Linked DNA regions of Homo sapiens. The protein of the gene in region 2 interacts with the protein of the main gene of each other region in a biochemical or structural test. Each region holds a gene or a part of one and is shown on either strand. Other genes may lie near its edges.

Evidence for each region.
Region 1: the proteins of CEACAM1 (region 2) and ANXA2 form a complex in vitro, tested with the Homo sapiens proteins (one study listed by BioGRID).

The regions. Positions count from the first base shown.
Region 1 is NC_000015.10:60,345,652-60,353,504, forward strand, and holds the end of ANXA2 (annexin A2), read right to left. Parts: intron 6,826-7,853; coding exon 6,732-6,825; intron 6,169-6,731; coding exon 6,073-6,168; intron 5,601-6,072; coding exon 5,542-5,600; intron 3,547-5,541; coding exon 3,424-3,546; intron 2,039-3,423; coding exon 1,979-2,038; 3' UTR 1,500-1,978; downstream 1-1,499. UniProt on the Homo sapiens protein: Calcium-regulated membrane-binding protein whose affinity for calcium is greatly enhanced by anionic phospholipids. It binds two calcium ions with high affinity. May be involved in heat-stress response.
Region 2 is NC_000019.10:42,510,875-42,519,391, reverse strand, and holds part of CEACAM1 (cell adhesion molecule CEACAM1 isoform 1 precursor), read left to right. Parts: intron 1-156; coding exon 157-444; intron 445-4,288; coding exon of another isoform or gene 4,289-4,381; intron 4,382-6,912; coding exon 6,913-7,042; intron 7,043-7,763; coding exon 7,764-7,816; intron 7,817-8,471; coding exon 8,472-8,503; intron 8,504-8,517.

The DNA.
Region 1 (7,853 bases), on a different chromosome or scaffold from region 2:
CACATACCTGTTGGCCACACCAGTGGCCAGACTGTCCTGGGCACAGTGGGAGCGTAAGTTTCCCCATATTCACCCCATGGCCTTGTCTGCTCCACACCACTGCTCCCTTTGCAGCCTGAAACACACGTATGATTGAGAGGTAACAATGCCTAAATGTTCACTGATCTGAAACACTGCTCCTGACAGTCTCTGCCCAGCCCTATCAATTCTGAGTTCAGTATAATTTGGGGTTAATGAGAAAGGTCCTGCTTCTTAGGCAGTTCCTTGAACTCTGCCCAAGCACACAGAACAGTATATTCTGTGATTTGGGGCATCCATTTTAATATGTATAGGCAGGACACATTTGATAAAATACCTGATTTTTGCATAACCTGCTTTTTAAGGACTATCTCAGGGGCCTTTCACATACGTTATGGGCCACTAGTGACCCAAGAGCCATGCTCGATCCAAATTTCCATCTAAAGTTTGCCAAAGGGCCAAAATAGCAGCCAATCAGCTCACGGATGTATTTGGTTTGGTCAATGCCATGTTGTTACGACTGTTGTTTGAATTGAATTTGAATGCCTCAAGCAAGGCAGGCATTCCCCATTTTCCCCAGATTCCCCACTTCTGTCCAACCTGCCCATTTCATACATTCATTTCCATTACCTACCTAGTCCCTGCAGATGACTGAGTGGGCCCTGCATCAGCCAGGTGCCAAAAATGAGTAGTTGACACACCCTCCACTAAGGAGAAGGGTTAGGAGGAGTAGTCAACTTCCCCTCACTCCCAGCCCTCTACCCTGCTTATGGGGAGCACTTGTATAAAAAGGAATCTGCAGAACCCAGTACCAGCAGCCTGGGGACAGCACCTTCACATTTATGAACACAGATAGATACATATATATACATGCGTATGCAGTCTATCCATGAAAATGTACTGGAAACCAGGCGACTCCAGGGAAGGCCACTGGCTAGTAAGGGAGAGACATAACTTTCCCTGTACAGAAAGAAGTCTCTGAACTTTTTGACATGTGTACCATTGTATCAGCGACCTGTCATTCATTCCCAGACCCTTAAGAACCTGCATGGAGTGCTTTCTCCCAGCTGTAAAACCTCACCTTAGATTTTAGTGTGCAGCTCAAATTGTTCCTTTTCTCTATCATCTTTCTCAATCCTCCCAGTCAAAAGAAATCCCTTCTCCGTGCTTCCCATCGGCTTGTGTTGGATCTCCTTTGCCAGAATGCTGTAGCCTGCCCCACCCTGCCCCACTGCTCTCTCCAGTTTGTGGCTGCCCCTGATGCTTATTTTCACCTAATTAACCTGTAGAAAGATAAGCAGATAAGGGGTCCCTCTGGGACCCTTTTTCTCCCCCATAGGTCCTCTCATGCCCTGGGCATGTACTGCTGCCCAACAGAACTTTCTATCGAAATGTTCCCTGCCTGCGCTGTCCAGATATACTAGCTGCTGACCACATGTGAAAGCTGAGCATTCGAAATGTGGATTGTGTGACTCAGGAACTGATTTTATTTTATTTTATTTCATTTAAATTTAACTTAAATAGCGACACTTGGATAGGGGCAACCATACTGTACAGCTCAGTCCCAGAGCTTTCTTCCTACAGGGACAGCCTCACCAGCTGAACCCCAAGCACGTTTAATTTTCAAACAATTCAGTTGAAAGCAGGGCCACAAAGTACGTGTTTCTAAAGTACAAATTCAGTTTATTCATCTGTTTATGACACAGTACACAGGAGGCAAAGTGTTTCACATCATAGACTTCACTTCCAACTCCTTGGAATGTTCATTTCTTTGGCTTACAGGAGAGACTAGACAGGAAGGCCAGGCAATGCTTAGGCAACTAAAATGAGGTTGGGGGTAATGCTAACGTCACCCTCACAGGGATGGCCACGGGGACTGTTATTCGCAAGCTGGTTTTCTAGACCTGTTAGCTGGAAGCATGGTGAGCACCATTTCTGGACGCTCAGGCCGTGTCGGGCTTCAGTCATCTCCACCACACAGGTACAGCAGCGCTTTCTGGTAGTCGCCCTTAGTGTCTTGCTACAATGGCCCAGGAAAGAAAAGAAACGTGGTATCAGAAAAAAGCCCAGACTCCTCAATAACACAGAAGTAGCCTCAACGCACAATGAAGCTTCTCCCATGACAAAGAGAAGACTCTGCAGGAGACCTGCCCTGATACAAAGGCCTGGAAGGCCACACCCAAACCATTGCCAGGGAAGCCTCCAGGAGTGTGGTCGGAGGAGGTGCTGGGGAAGACACTCAAGGCTCCTTAGGACTGTGGGGTGGAGGGAGTGCAAGGTGCTGAGGATTGACATAGGTTAGTGACCAGGGCTGTTCTTACTGCAGCAAGGTCCTACAAACACCCTAACTTTCCTCTCTCGTCCTCGTCTTTCCACAGAAAACAGGGTACTTTCCTAGCTCACTCTCCTATTTCCTGCATTATTAAGGTCAAGTGGAAATAAGCTGGTGAGGTGAGGAACAATTACTAAGAGTCTAACTGGTCCTTTGACTTTAAACATGTGCCCTAATAAACCTGGCTACAAAAAATCCAGCTCTAACTTTATCCTTGCTAACCATGGGCATGCCTTTGGACATCTGAGGAACTTCTAGAAAGGGGAATTGCAAGGGCTGTCTGAAATCTACACAGTGGTACCACTGTGAATGCCATCACTTCCTTACTGCAAATGCGACATCACATCAAAACAGACAGATGCTAAACTGATTGGAGAGATGGGAGTTCTGAATAACTGAAAGTTGTTAGGCCTATCCCAGAGGATTTTTCAAGGAACCAATGCATAATAAAAGTAAAATGTGGCCGGGCGCAGTGGCTCACGCCTGTCATCCCAGCACTTTGGGAGGCCGAGGCGGGCGGATCACGAGGTCAGGAGATCGAGACCATCCTGGCTAACACGGTGAAACCCTGTCTCTACTAAAAATACAAAAAAATTAGCCGGGTGTGGTGGCGGGCGCCTGTAGTCCTAGCTACTTGGGAGGCTGAGGCAGGAAAATGGTGTGAACCCAGAAGTCGGAGGTTGCAGTGAGCCGAGATTGTGGCCACTGCACTCCAGCCTGGGCGAGAGAGCAAGACTCCGTCTCAAAAAAAAAAAAAAAAGTAAAATGTAACTGATCTTCCAAGCCTCTTCGGGATGTCAGCAAGCCTTGCAGGATCATCGTCATGAACACCGATGATCATTGTAGAGTAACAGATGTGAAAAATATAAAACATCTGCCTGATTGTACAAAGTCCAGGACAAATCACAAATGGTGCTTTCAAAATAAATCCCTGATAGTTGATGACTAGCATCTCTTCCCCAGAGAGTCAGAAAACAGAAAATCGCCACTCTGTCATCATTCTGCCAGGCCACCTGCCAGGGCCCGGGGTGCTCTGGACGGCAGGGCAGGCTGACACTGCACCTCGGGCTTACCTGGATATAATAGTACAGGGACTTGCCGTACTTTCTCTTGAATTCAGACCTAATTTTCAACATGTCCACTTCACTGCGGGAGACCATGATTCTGATCAGGACCTTATCTCGCGTCCCCTTGCCCTGAAAATCAAGTTGATATTTGTTACATTCGCTGAGAATGTTATCGTTAAAGAAAGCGTCTACAGGTTGAGCATCCCTGATCTGAAAATCTGAAATCTAAAATGCTCCAAAATCCAAAACTTTTTCAGTGCCGACATGATGCCACAATGAAAAATTCCACATACAGCACTTAACACAAACTGTTTCATGCACAAAATTATCAAAAGCGTTGTATAAAATTACCTTTAGGCTATGTGTGTAAGGTCTATATAAAACATAAATGAATCTCAAGTTTAGACTTGGGTCCCATCCCTAAAATATTTCATCATATATATGCAAATATTACAAAATCAAAAATAAATCTGAGATATAAAACATTCCTGGTCCCAAGCATTTTGGATAAGGGATATTAGGGCACAGTGTACACTGCCTGGGTGATAAGTACACCAAAATCTCAAAAATCACCACGAAAGAACTTATTCATGTAACCGAACACTACTTGTTTCCCAAAAACCTATAAGAAAGGAAAGACAGAGAGAGAGAGGGAAAGACAGAGAGAGAGAGAGAAAGAAAGAGAGAAAGAAAGAAAAAGGGAAGGAAGGAAGGAGAGAGAAAGAGAGAAGAAAGGGAAAGGGAAAGGAAGGAAAGGGAGGGAGGGGAAGGAAAGGGAGGGAGGTGAAGGCAGGGAGGCAGGGGAAGGCAAGGAGGCAGGAGAAGGCAGGGAGGCAGGGGAAGGCAGGGAGGCAGGGGAAGGCAGGGAGGCAGGGGAAGGCAGGGAGGCAGGGGAAGGCAGGGAGGGAGGGGAAGGCAGGGAGGCAGGGGAAGGCAGGGAGGGAGGGGAAGGCAGGGAGGCAGGGGAAGGCAGGGAGGGAGGGGAAGGCAGGGAGGCAGGGGAAGGCAGGGAGGGAGGGGAAGGCAGGGAGGGAGGGGAAGGCAGGGAGGGAGGGGAAGGCAGGGAGGGAGGGGAAGGCAGGGAGGCAGGGGAAGGCAGGGAGGGAGGGAGGAAAAAAGAAAGAAAAAAAAAGACAAGACAAGAAAAGAAAAGAAAGAAGAGCATCTGGGAATTCCAAACACACCAGGCTGTAGTCAGCACAGACTCCCACTCTATGCCACCATTCAATAAATATATACTGAGCACCTACTACTGCAAGGCTCAGTTCAAGCAGTCTGAGTCTCCATATGTAACAAGAGGTTCCTGACTCTTGCAGGCTTAGAGGGAACATGCCAACACATTTCTATCATCGCTCTGTGCCATTTCTAATGATATGTGCAATAAAGACCACTGAGTTTACTTCCAGAGCATCAGAGCGAAGGCACCAAGGGGTGCTATTTGATATGGAACTCAAAGACAGATGGCAGAGGCAGCACAGACAAGGGAGATGTTCCAGAAGGAAAATGCAAAAGCCTAGAAGCCAGAAAACACATGGCACACTTGAGGTGTAGAAAATGGGATGGGTCTACGGGAAGAGGTGGTTCGTTTAGGGAAGGGTTGTGGGGCTGTCTTTGGGGTCTGATAGACCCAGGTTCAAATCTGTCTGTGTAACTTCAAGCAGGCTGAGGTATTCTGAGCTCCATCTCTGCATTTATAAAGAAGATAATCATAAGCCTCAGAGGTTGTTATGCAATGATTTAAGGTAAAATAGTAGCACTTGTCCACTGTATAGTGGGTGCTTAATAATCGCTCCCTTCCTCGCTTGTCTTGACTCTGGCAGTAACAGGAAGAAATCACGGAGAAACCTAAGCAGGGATCAGACACGACTACCATGTCGCATTTTCTCTCTCCCATGGCACTTTACTTTTTGTCTGTACGCAAATACATGTTCAAGCAGCTGAGAGAAAGAAGACAGATTTGTGGTTCTCTCAGCTGTCACATACAACCACAGCTGACTAGTGTGTTCCTGCATCCACACAGTGGGGTCCCCTTCCTCCATCCATGAATCAAGGAGACTCAATTTGGGACCCAAAAGAAGAAAAGCTGAGTGTGGAAACACAGCTCTCTCAGCCAGCTGCCCTTACCTTCATGGAGTCATACAGCCGATCAGCAAAATACAGGGGCTTGTTCTGAATGCACTGAACTGTGGAGAGAAGAAAGGGAGTCAGCGCTGCAGCTGCTCTGGTCTCTCCTCTACCAATGAGAGAGGATGCCCTGGCCCTGGGCCACAAACCAGAAGTGACCTAATGCAATGGAAAAGGGCTGCAAAATAGGACAGGCTAAGGGAAATCTAGAAATCCTCTGCAATACTAAGTTCCACCACGGTTTTAAACCAGGGGTCTCTGAGGCCTGCAGAACCCAAGTGCATACGTGAGTTTCCACAACACACCCCTCTCTCCTCCTGTTCTCTTACTCCTCCCTGGCAACAATCTGTTACCAAGTTAGGCCTTTCTTCAGTTTTATATTCTGAAATCTATACAATTAAGACTGTAAAACTATCCAAAGCATGCATAGAAGCCACACCTCCCAAACACATTTGGATTAACAGGATGGCCATCTGTCACTTCTGCTCTGGTAGCTGATGTCTACCAGGAATGGGGGCCACATTCACTTACCCAGGTTCAGGAAAGCATTTTCCAGGTCTCCTTTAACCTCTTTCCTGATGCTTTCCAACATGTCATAAGGGCTGTAACTCTTGTACCTATCAAATACTGAGGAAAAACAACAAAGAGTTATCAGATCCGAGCCACTAGTCAAAGCTGTCAACGATCACCCACCTAGTTTTATGCACCATAATTTTTTTAAAAATTGAGGATGATCACAGCATCCTAGGAGCTTAGAGGTTACCACGGTGACCAGAGCCAACATTGGCCAAGTTTGTCGTGGAACAGCCATACCACCTGTCCTGAATGGCACTGCCCAGGCCACATATTTGGACCATCTCTATCTCCCCTGAGTGGAACCCATTCCATCCGAAAACCATAGGAAACAGTACAGAGCATGCACCAAAGTCCACTACTTCAACAAATAATGGCAAGACCAAATGATCATCAAACAAGAAGGAGCTGCAGAATAAAGCACCAAATGCAGAAACTATTTGCAAGAGAAAAGAATCCAGAATGGGAGAGAAAGGTGAGGGAAAATGGGTGAGCCTATGAGAGTGCCAAGCGGAGACAGAACCTCATTCTGGCAGACTCCATCCCAACATGGACATCCACCCAGCCGCCCCAGCCAGGGCCCCAAGGCACTGAGACTCCCTCAGCACAGTGCCCACCTTTCTGGAGGTGGGGCACGCTCCGCTCGGTCATGATGCTGATCCACTTGGGAACATCAGTTCCTTTCCTCTTCACTCCAGCGTCATAGAGATCCTACGAGTACAACCAACCAGGAAAAGTTAACTACACATCCAATGTAACGTCAAAAAAAATGTCATGCAAAAAAAACAAAAAAAGCTACACATTCAAAATGCCAAACGAGGAAAGATGATTATACTGCAGACATGGGCAGAGACCTACTATTTAGGTCAAAAGTCTTAATCACAAGCAGTCTTCCTTAGGCACAGATGGATACCATATGAGACTGCAGATAGTTCGTGAGGTCTGCTGTACAATCTCCTTCCTTGAATAAGAAAGGAGGGACCAAGAGCTTGTATTCATATAAAGAAGAACAAGTAAATGTTCATTAACACATCTGGCCCTCCTCCCTTTGGGCACATTTAGGGGCAGATAAGCTAGCAGATGTTTACTGGACAGCTACAGACCAGGCTCTCATTCTCAAGCTTCTCAGAGACTCAGGGAGTGATGGAGCTGGAAAAGGAGCCCATCTCATCTCACTTTCAGTTTCTGGAAAATTTAGGGGCTACAAGTAGCCCTAACAATGGCAGGGAGGGCAAGAGGAAGAAAGGCTTATGCAAGGGTAGATATTCATTCCGTGATCTTCCACCATCTAGGAACTGCAAAACCCAACTTCTATTACTTTATTTAAAACCCTTCTCTACTACCTGCTAGAAGTGCCGTGTGGAATATATTGAATTTTAAAACTAACATTAATTTAAATTAATTTTTTTCTGCAGCTTTTATGACTTACTTTGAGATAATCGTTGTCCCTCTGAGTAAAGAATATAGTTCATTGCAGTCTGAATAAGCTTAACAAATAGTTCTCAGAGATAATGGAACTAGAACTGGCAAAAGTCTTATTCAGCCAGAAAAGGACAGGTCTCTGCTGGCCTCCCTTTCTCCCCCACCACAACAGAGCAGTACACCATCCTGTCCCTGGCTGTGTCTCCTCCACCTTCTTCTGCTTCCCACCTGCCTGCCTGATTGGTATGCACAGCCACATTACACTCTGCAGAAACTGATGCTTCCATACAAGCAAAGCCTGAGTGAGCATATGTGAG
Region 2 (8,517 bases):
CAGAGGGTCAGGGCTATCCCCTGGTTGGTGACCTTTGCACAGCTCACTGTGGGACCTGAGAGCTGGCTAAAATCTCAGGGAAAGGAGCATAGCCCTAGGCCCCAGGCCCCAACCCTATTCTCAGTAGGTTATCTCAGATACTCTGCTTGTCCACAGAGCTAAGTCCAGTAGTAGCAAAGCCCCAAATCAAAGCCAGCAAGACCACAGTCACAGGAGATAAGGACTCTGTGAACCTGACCTGCTCCACAAATGACACTGGAATCTCCATCCGTTGGTTCTTCAAAAACCAGAGTCTCCCGTCCTCGGAGAGGATGAAGCTGTCCCAGGGCAACACCACCCTCAGCATAAACCCTGTCAAGAGGGAGGATGCTGGGACGTATTGGTGTGAGGTCTTCAACCCAATCAGTAAGAACCAAAGCGACCCCATCATGCTGAACGTAAACTGTAAGTGACTCCTCACCCCTTCCTATATGTCCCTCTAGGATTACTCTGTCAATGGTGTGCAAAATGGATAAAACTCACAGGAGGCAGAATATCAATGAAGAGACCATTATAGCAAACAGAATTGCAAAGTGGTTAAGAGCTCAGCTCAGGCCGGGCACAGTGGCTCACGCCTGTAATCCCAGCAGTTTGGGAGGCCAAGGCGGGCGGATCACGAGGGCAGGAGATCGAGACCATCCTGGCTAATATGGTGAAACCCCGTGTCTACTAAAAATACAAAAAAAAATTAGCCGGGCATGGTGGCGGGCGCCTGTAGTCCCAGCTACTCGGGAGGCTGAGGCGGGAGAATGGCGTGAACCTGGGAGGCGGAGCTTTCAGTGAGCCGAGATGGTGCCACTGCACTCCAGTCTAGGCAACAGAGCAAGACTCTGTCTCAAAAAAAAAAAAAAAAAAAGAGCTCAGGCTCTGAATCAAATATACATATACTTAGTTGGTTTTTTTTGGTTGGTTGGGTTTTTTTGTTTGTTTTGTTGTTTTGAGACAGGGTCTCACTCTGTCACCCAGGCTGGAGTGCTGTGGTGTGATCAAAGCTCACTCCCGCCTCAATCCCCTGGGTTCAAGCAATCCTGCCACCTCAGCCTCCAGAGTAGCTGGGACTACAGGTTGCACCACCATGCCTGGCTAAGTTTTTAAGTTTTTTTGTAGAGTTGGGGTTTCACTGTGTTGCCCAGGCTGGTCTCAATCTCCTGGTCTCAGCCTCGGCCTCCCAAAGTGCTGGGATTACAGGAATGAGCCACTCTGCCCACCCCGTATTTAACTATTCTAAGTACCTCTCATACAGATGGAAGCATGCAATATTTGTCCTTTTGTGTCTGGCTTACTTCATTTAGCACAATGTCTTCAAGCTCCATCTATGTTGTAGAATGTATCAGAATTTCATTCCTTTTGGAGACTGAATAATATTATGCTGTGTAGATAGATACATCACATTTTGCTTATCCACTCATCCATCTATGGACAGTTAGGTTGCTTCCACCTTTTGGCTATTATGAATAATGCTATTACAAACATGGGTATACAAATATCTGTTCAAATCCCTGCTTTCAGTTCTTTTAAATAGATACTCAGAAGTGGAATTGCTGGATCAAATGGTAATCCTGTTTAATTTTGAAGAACCATCATACCATTTTCCACAGTGGCTATACCATTTCACATTCCCACCAGCAATGCACTAGAGTTCCAATTTCTCTACATCTTCAAAAACATTTGTTGCTTTCTGGTTTTGTTTTGTTTTTTATAATGGCCATCCTAATGGTTATAAGGTGGTATATCATTGGAGTTTTGATTTGCACTTCCCTAATGATTAGCAATATTTAGCATCTTTTCATGTGCTTATTTGCCATTTATCTTCTTTGGAGAAATGTTTATTCAAGTCCTTTGCCCATGTTTTAATTAGGTTGTTTGGGGATTTTTGGTTGAGTTGCAGTAGTTCTTTATATATTTTGGATATTAATCCCTTATCAGATATATGATTCTCAAATATTTTCTCCCATTCTATAAGAAGTCTTTTCACTTTTGTGATAATGTGCTTTGATACACAAAAGCTTTTAATTTTCATTAAGTCCAATTTCTCTACTTCTTCTTTCGTTGCCTATGCTTTTAGTGTCATAGCCAAGAAATCATTGCCAAATTCAATGTTCCAAAGTTTTCACTCTATCTTCCAAGAGCTTTATAGTTTTAGCTCTTACATTTAGGTCTTTTATGCATTTTGAATTAATTTTTATATATGGTGTTACATAAAGGTTCAATTTCATTCTTTTGCATGGATATCCAGTTTCTTCAATGCCATTTGTTGAAAAGACTATCCTTTCCCCACTGAATGATCTTGGCACCCTTGTCAAAAAACATTTGGCTATGTATGCAAACATTTCTTTCTGGGCTCTATATTTTATTCCACTGGTTTCTATTTCTTTTTGCCAGTACCATACTGTTTTGATTACTGTAGCTTTTGGATTTTGTTTGTTTGTTTTATTGTTGTTGTTTGGGTTTTTTTGTTTTGTTTTGTTTTTTTGCTTTTCTTTGTAGAGATGGCGTTTCACCATGTTGCCAAGGCTGGTCTCAAACTCCTGAGCTCAAGCAATCCACCCGCCTCCACCTCCCAAAGTGCTAAGATTACAGGTGTGATGATTACCATAGCTTTGTAAAAAATTTTGAAACCAGGAAGTGTGAGCCCTTCAACTTTGTTCTTTTTCAAGATTGCTTTGGCTATCCATGGTCCCTTCAGAGTCTATATAAATTTTAGAATGAATTTTTCTATTTCTGCAAAAAATATTACTGGAATTTTGATAGAGATTGCACTGAATCTGTAGATCACTTTGGGTAGTACTGTCATCTTAACAATATTAAGTCTTCTAATCCATGAAAATGGGGTGTCTTTTCAATTTATGTCTTATTTAATTTCTTTTGGCAATGTTTTGTATTTTCAGGGTACAAATCTTTCACCTCTTTGGTTAAGTTTATTTCTAAGTATTTTTAAAGCTCTTATAAATAGAATTTTTTTCTTAATTTTCCTTTGAATTGTTATTAGTATACAAAAATACAACTGATTTTTGCATGTGGATTTTGTATCCTGCCACTTTGCTAAATTTATTATTCTAACAGTTTTTTTGTGGAATCTCTAGGGTTTTCTATATATAAGTTAGTGTATTCTGCAAACAGGTATAATTTTACTTCTTTCCAATCTAGATGCTTTTTTTTTCTTGCCTAATTGTTCTGTCTAGGTCTTCCAATACTACATTGAATAGAAATGGCAAAAGCAGGCATCCTTGTCTTGTTCTTGATCTTAAAGGAAAAGTTTTCAATCTTTCACCATTGACTATGATGGTAGCTGGGGGTTTTCACATGTAGCATTTATTATGTTGAGAATTTCCTTCTATTCCTAGTTTCAGTGTTTTTTAGCATGAAAGAATGTTGAATTTTGTCAAATGCTTTTATCGACTCATTTTCATTACTGGTTATAGGTCTATTCAGATTTTCTATTTATTCATGATTCTATCATGGCAGGTTTTGTGTTTCTAGGAATTTGTTCATTTCATCCAGGTTATCCAATTTGTTGGCATTCAATTACTCATAGTACTCTTATAATCCTTATTATTTCTGCAGAATTAGTAGTAATGTTTTACTTTCATTTCTGACTTTAGTAATTTGAATCTTCTTTCTTTCTTAGTCAATCTAATTAACAGTTGTCAATTATAGTGATCTTTTTTGAAGAACAACTTTTTTTTTTCGGTTTGAGACAGGTTCTCACTCTGTCACCGAGGCTGATCATGGCTCACCACAGCCTCAACTTCCCGGGTTCAAGCAATCCTCCTGCTTCAGCCTCCTGGGTAGCTGAAACTACAGACAAGCACTACCACCTCCGGCTAATTTTTGTAATTTTTTGTAGAGACAGGGTTTCACCATCTTGCCCAGCTGGTCTCAAATTCCTGAGCTCAAGTGATACACCTGCCTCAGCCTCCCAAATTGCTGGGATTACAGTCATACACCACTGTACCTGGCCTACAGTTATAAATTTCTTTCTTGCACAAGATTCTTAACTACTCTGAGCCTCGGATTCCTCAACCGAAAATTGCACTGTGAATGCCTGCTCCATAGTATTGCACGGGTTTGGGGTTTTTGTTTTGTTTTTGAGACAGGGTGTCACTCTGTCACCCAGACTGGAGTGCAGTGGTGCAAACACAGCTCACTGCAGCCTCAACCTCCTGGGCTCAAGCAATTCCCTCACCTTAGCCTCCTAAGTAGTACATACTACCACATCTGGCTAATTTATTTTTATTTTTGTTTTCAGAGAGACAGAATCTCACCATGTTACCCAGGCTGGACTCGAACTCCTGGGCTCAAGCAATCCTCCCATCTGTTTCCCAAAGTGCTGAGATTACAGGTGTGAGCCACCACGCCTGGCCCCATAGTGTTATTTTAAAGATTTAATGTAATAATAAACCTTCAGCAAAACACCACACACAGAGGAAATGTTTCATAAATGTTAGCTGCTATTACTACTACTATTATCATTAGCCTTGAAATCAGGTAGTCCTAGGGTCAAATCTCAGATCCACCTCTCACTAGCCATCTGACTTTAGGTAAGCCTTTTACCACTCTAAGCTTCCATTTTTTCATGTTTAAAATGGAAATAATGTCTACCTGACAGCACTATTTTATGGATCAAATAAGATACATGTAAAGCATTTAGCAGCACAGGGCCTGGCACACAGGAAGTACTCCACAAAAGTAGCTAACATAGCATTAGTCACCAGCCTGAGTTGACTGGTGAGGGTTAAGCCCCAAATAGTTGCAACAGATATAAACAAGAAATAGGCTAGACACAGTGGCTCACACCTGTAATCCCAACATTTGGGAGGCCGAGGCTGGAGGATCTCTTGAGCCCAGGAATCCAAGACCAGCCTAGGCAATATAGTGGAACCCTATCTCTACAAAAATTATTTTTTTTTAATTAGCCAGGTGGGTGGGCGTGGTGGCTCACGCCTGTAATCCCAACACTTTGGGAGGTTGAGGCAGGCGGGTCACCTGAGGTCGGGAGTTCAAGACCAGCCTGACCAGGATGGAGAAACCCCGTCTCTACTAAAAATACAAAATTAGCCAGGCGTGGTGGCGCATGCCTGTAATCCCAGCAATTCAGGAGGCTGAGGTAGGAGAATCGCTTGAACCTGGGAGGCAGAGGTTGCAGTGAGCCGAGATCACGCCATTGCACTCTAGCCTAGGCAACAAGAGCAAAACTCGGTCTCAAAAAAAAAAAAAAGAAAGAAAAAAATTAGCCAGGTGTGGTGGCATGTGCTTATAGTCTCAGCTACTGAGGAGACTGAGGTGGGAGGATCACTTGATCCCAAGAGGCTACAATGAGCCATGATTGTGCCACTGCACTCCAGCCTGGGTGATAGAGTGAGAACCTGCCTCAAAAAAAAAAAAAAAAAAAAAGAAGAAGAAGAAATAGATGCAAAAGGTATTATTTATATATTATATATATATATATATATATATATGGAGGGAGAAGCATTATACAAGAAACCCACTGGGACATGGCTATGATCAAATATGGGAAAGGGGGAAAAAAGGAGGTAAAGCAAAGTCTCAAGCCTGGTATGTTAGTTTCCATCTACTGAGATACAGTGAAGATGGGATTAAACATACGAGATAATTTATTGGGGAAAATGCCTGTGAGGGAAAGTAAGGCGAGAGTGAGAGGAACCTCAGACCATGATGCAGATCTGATTCCTGTGGAAGAGAAAGAGAGGAAGGAAGTTTTAGATTGAAGTGCAGTTTTTGTTTGTTTGTTTTTTGAGACAGAGTCTCACTCTGTTGCCCAGGCTTGAGTGCAGTAGTGTGATCTCGGCTCACTGAAACCTCTGCCCCCCGGGTTCAAGCGATTCTCCTGCCTCAGCCTCTCAAGTAGCTGGGATTATAGGCACCTGCCACCGCACCCAGCTAAATTTTGTATTTTTAGTAGAGATAGGGTTTCACCATCTTGGCCAGGCTGGTCTTGAACTCCTGACCTCGTGATCCACCCGCCTCAGCCTCCCAAAGTTCTGGGATTACAGGCGTCAGCCACCGCGCCCGGCCTGCAGTGCAGTTCTAAGAGCATTTCTGCAAGGCTGACAGGGAGTCCTCCAGCCATTCACACTTCAGAATAAAACAGTCACACAAAACTGGGCTAGCTTTCATACCCCTGCTGGGAGCCTGTGGGAAGCCAGTTCTCTATGCAAAAGAGGTGGTGAATTCAGAATGCACCAACTGCCACAACTGAGACACTGAGAAAAAGATGCAACCACGAAAAAGGTGGAAAGTTCTAATCACATACAAAATAGCAATCAGCCTTTCTCATATTTCAAAGCCTTAAAAATGGCTGAGCGCAGAAAAGCCAGGGTGGAATTGGCAGAAGAGAGATCATCAACCTAGAAACATGGTGACTGGGGTTGGGCGCAGTGGCTCACGCCTATAATCCAAGCACTTTGGGAGGCCGAGGCAGGCGGATCATGAGGTCAGGAGTTCAAGACCAGTCTGACCAATATGGTGAAACCCCGTCTCTACTAAAAAAATACAGAAATTAGCCAGGTGTGGTGGCACGTGCCTGTAGTCCAGCCTGAGGCAGGAGAATCGCTTGAACCTGGGAGGCGGAGGTTGCAGTGAGCCAAGATCATGCTACTGCACTCCAGCCTGAGAGACAGAGCAAGACTCTGTCTCAAAAAAAAAAAAGAAAAGAAAAAAAGAAACATGGTGATTGAAAAAAAAAAATTGCAAGGATATAGTTAGCTAATCACCTTCCAGCAACCTTCCCACAACGAAACTGTATTCCTTGAAGGAACAATTAGAAACTACTTCATTCTGAGAGTTGTTTCCCAGCCCCCATTGTAAAATAATTTCACTTTCATTTCTTCTCCTCTTTTCTCTCCATGACAGATAATGCTCTACCACAAGAAAATGGCCTCTCACCTGGGGCCATTGCTGGCATTGTGATTGGAGTAGTGGCCCTGGTTGCTCTGATAGCAGTAGCCCTGGCATGTTTTCTGCATTTCGGGAAGACCGGCAGGTATGATGGCCTTTCCTCTTGTTCTGTTTCCTCCAAGGCTGACTGCCATGCTTGGGAGAGGGAAAGAATTCTTTGCCTGTCTCTGGGCCTGGATCTCATACTCCTCCCACTAAACTCCTGCTTCTCGGCACTAATTCCCACAGGTTTCCTCTTCCCTGGTCTTCGTGCTCCCTGTCTCCCATTATCTCTTGGACATGGGTATTCCAATCCCCATCTAATCTAGAGGAAGAGACTCAAGTATGTTCCTCTGTCCCCTAGTCAGGGAAAGCAAGGTCTAAGAAGGAAAACAAATGAAAAAATGAAAGAAGCAGCAGGAGAAAGCAAGTCATGTGCTCTGTTGACCACATTGGAAGAGGAGGGAGAAATAGCATAGGAAGAGAACCTAAGAGAAAGCAAAAACAACCAAAGTCCTCTTGAACAATAAATAGAGAAAAAAAAAAAAGTATCTACCCCGGAAAACAAAATGGGAAAGGTTTTAAGGATAGAAGTAGGCACAGAAGCAGCTGATAAAGAATGAAATGAAATGTGAACATCCAGCAAACAGGAAAAGAGTAAACACTAGAAGGGATTGTAGTTAGACTGAAGAACGAGGCCCTCAGAAGAAAGGCAGTATGAACATCAAGGACTCTAAGGAATTACCTGCTCACAGTGTCCTTCCTAACTTACGGAACAAAGATCCTGTGCTTGGGAATAGCAGTCACAGTTTCTGATATTTATTTAGGGCAAGCGACCAGCGTGATCTCACAGAGCACAAACCCTCAGTCTCCAACCACAGTAAGTAAAGCCACTTACCCCAGTGAGAACTGGTATGTTCCACCACGTGCCCTCCCCTGGCAGGGAATCCTGGATTCCCAAACCACTCCCTCCCTTCTGAATTTTCACAGAAAGGATCTCTATTTCCCAACCCTAAGGTGGCATAGGTCTTCCCACCCTTCCTAGCCACAGGAGTCCCCTGAGACACATCTGAGGAGAGAGGCTCACTCTGCCTAGGCCAGGCAGGCCTGAGGAAGATCCCATGTTTCCAGGAGCCATTTCCTCAGCCTTACTCCTTCCGCCTCCTGCCTCTATTACGGATGTGGGCACTCTCCCTTGGTGAGACTTTCCTTATCTTGTGGGTGCTGTGGGTGCTACAAGTCTCAATGCCCCTCCTTGCCACTGGAGCATGTTGCTGAGAAACACATCTGGGCAAAAATCAAGGCCTTGTGAACTGGTAGAACTCTTCACAAGTGGATTGTGGCCTCCTGTGGTTCTGCCCCTGCCCCCTCTCTGGTACTAACATGCTGGGTCTGGACCATACACTCTGAGGGAAGTAAATTCCTTAACTGATCCTTAAACTCCCCACCCTCCAACTGCCACCTCCTTCAGCTAGAATCACCTGAAGTCAGCTTTGCATTTCCATGGATCGCTAACTCTTCTTTTGCTTCTCCAGCTCAGGACCACTCCAATGACCCACCTAACAAGGTAAGCATAGCCGG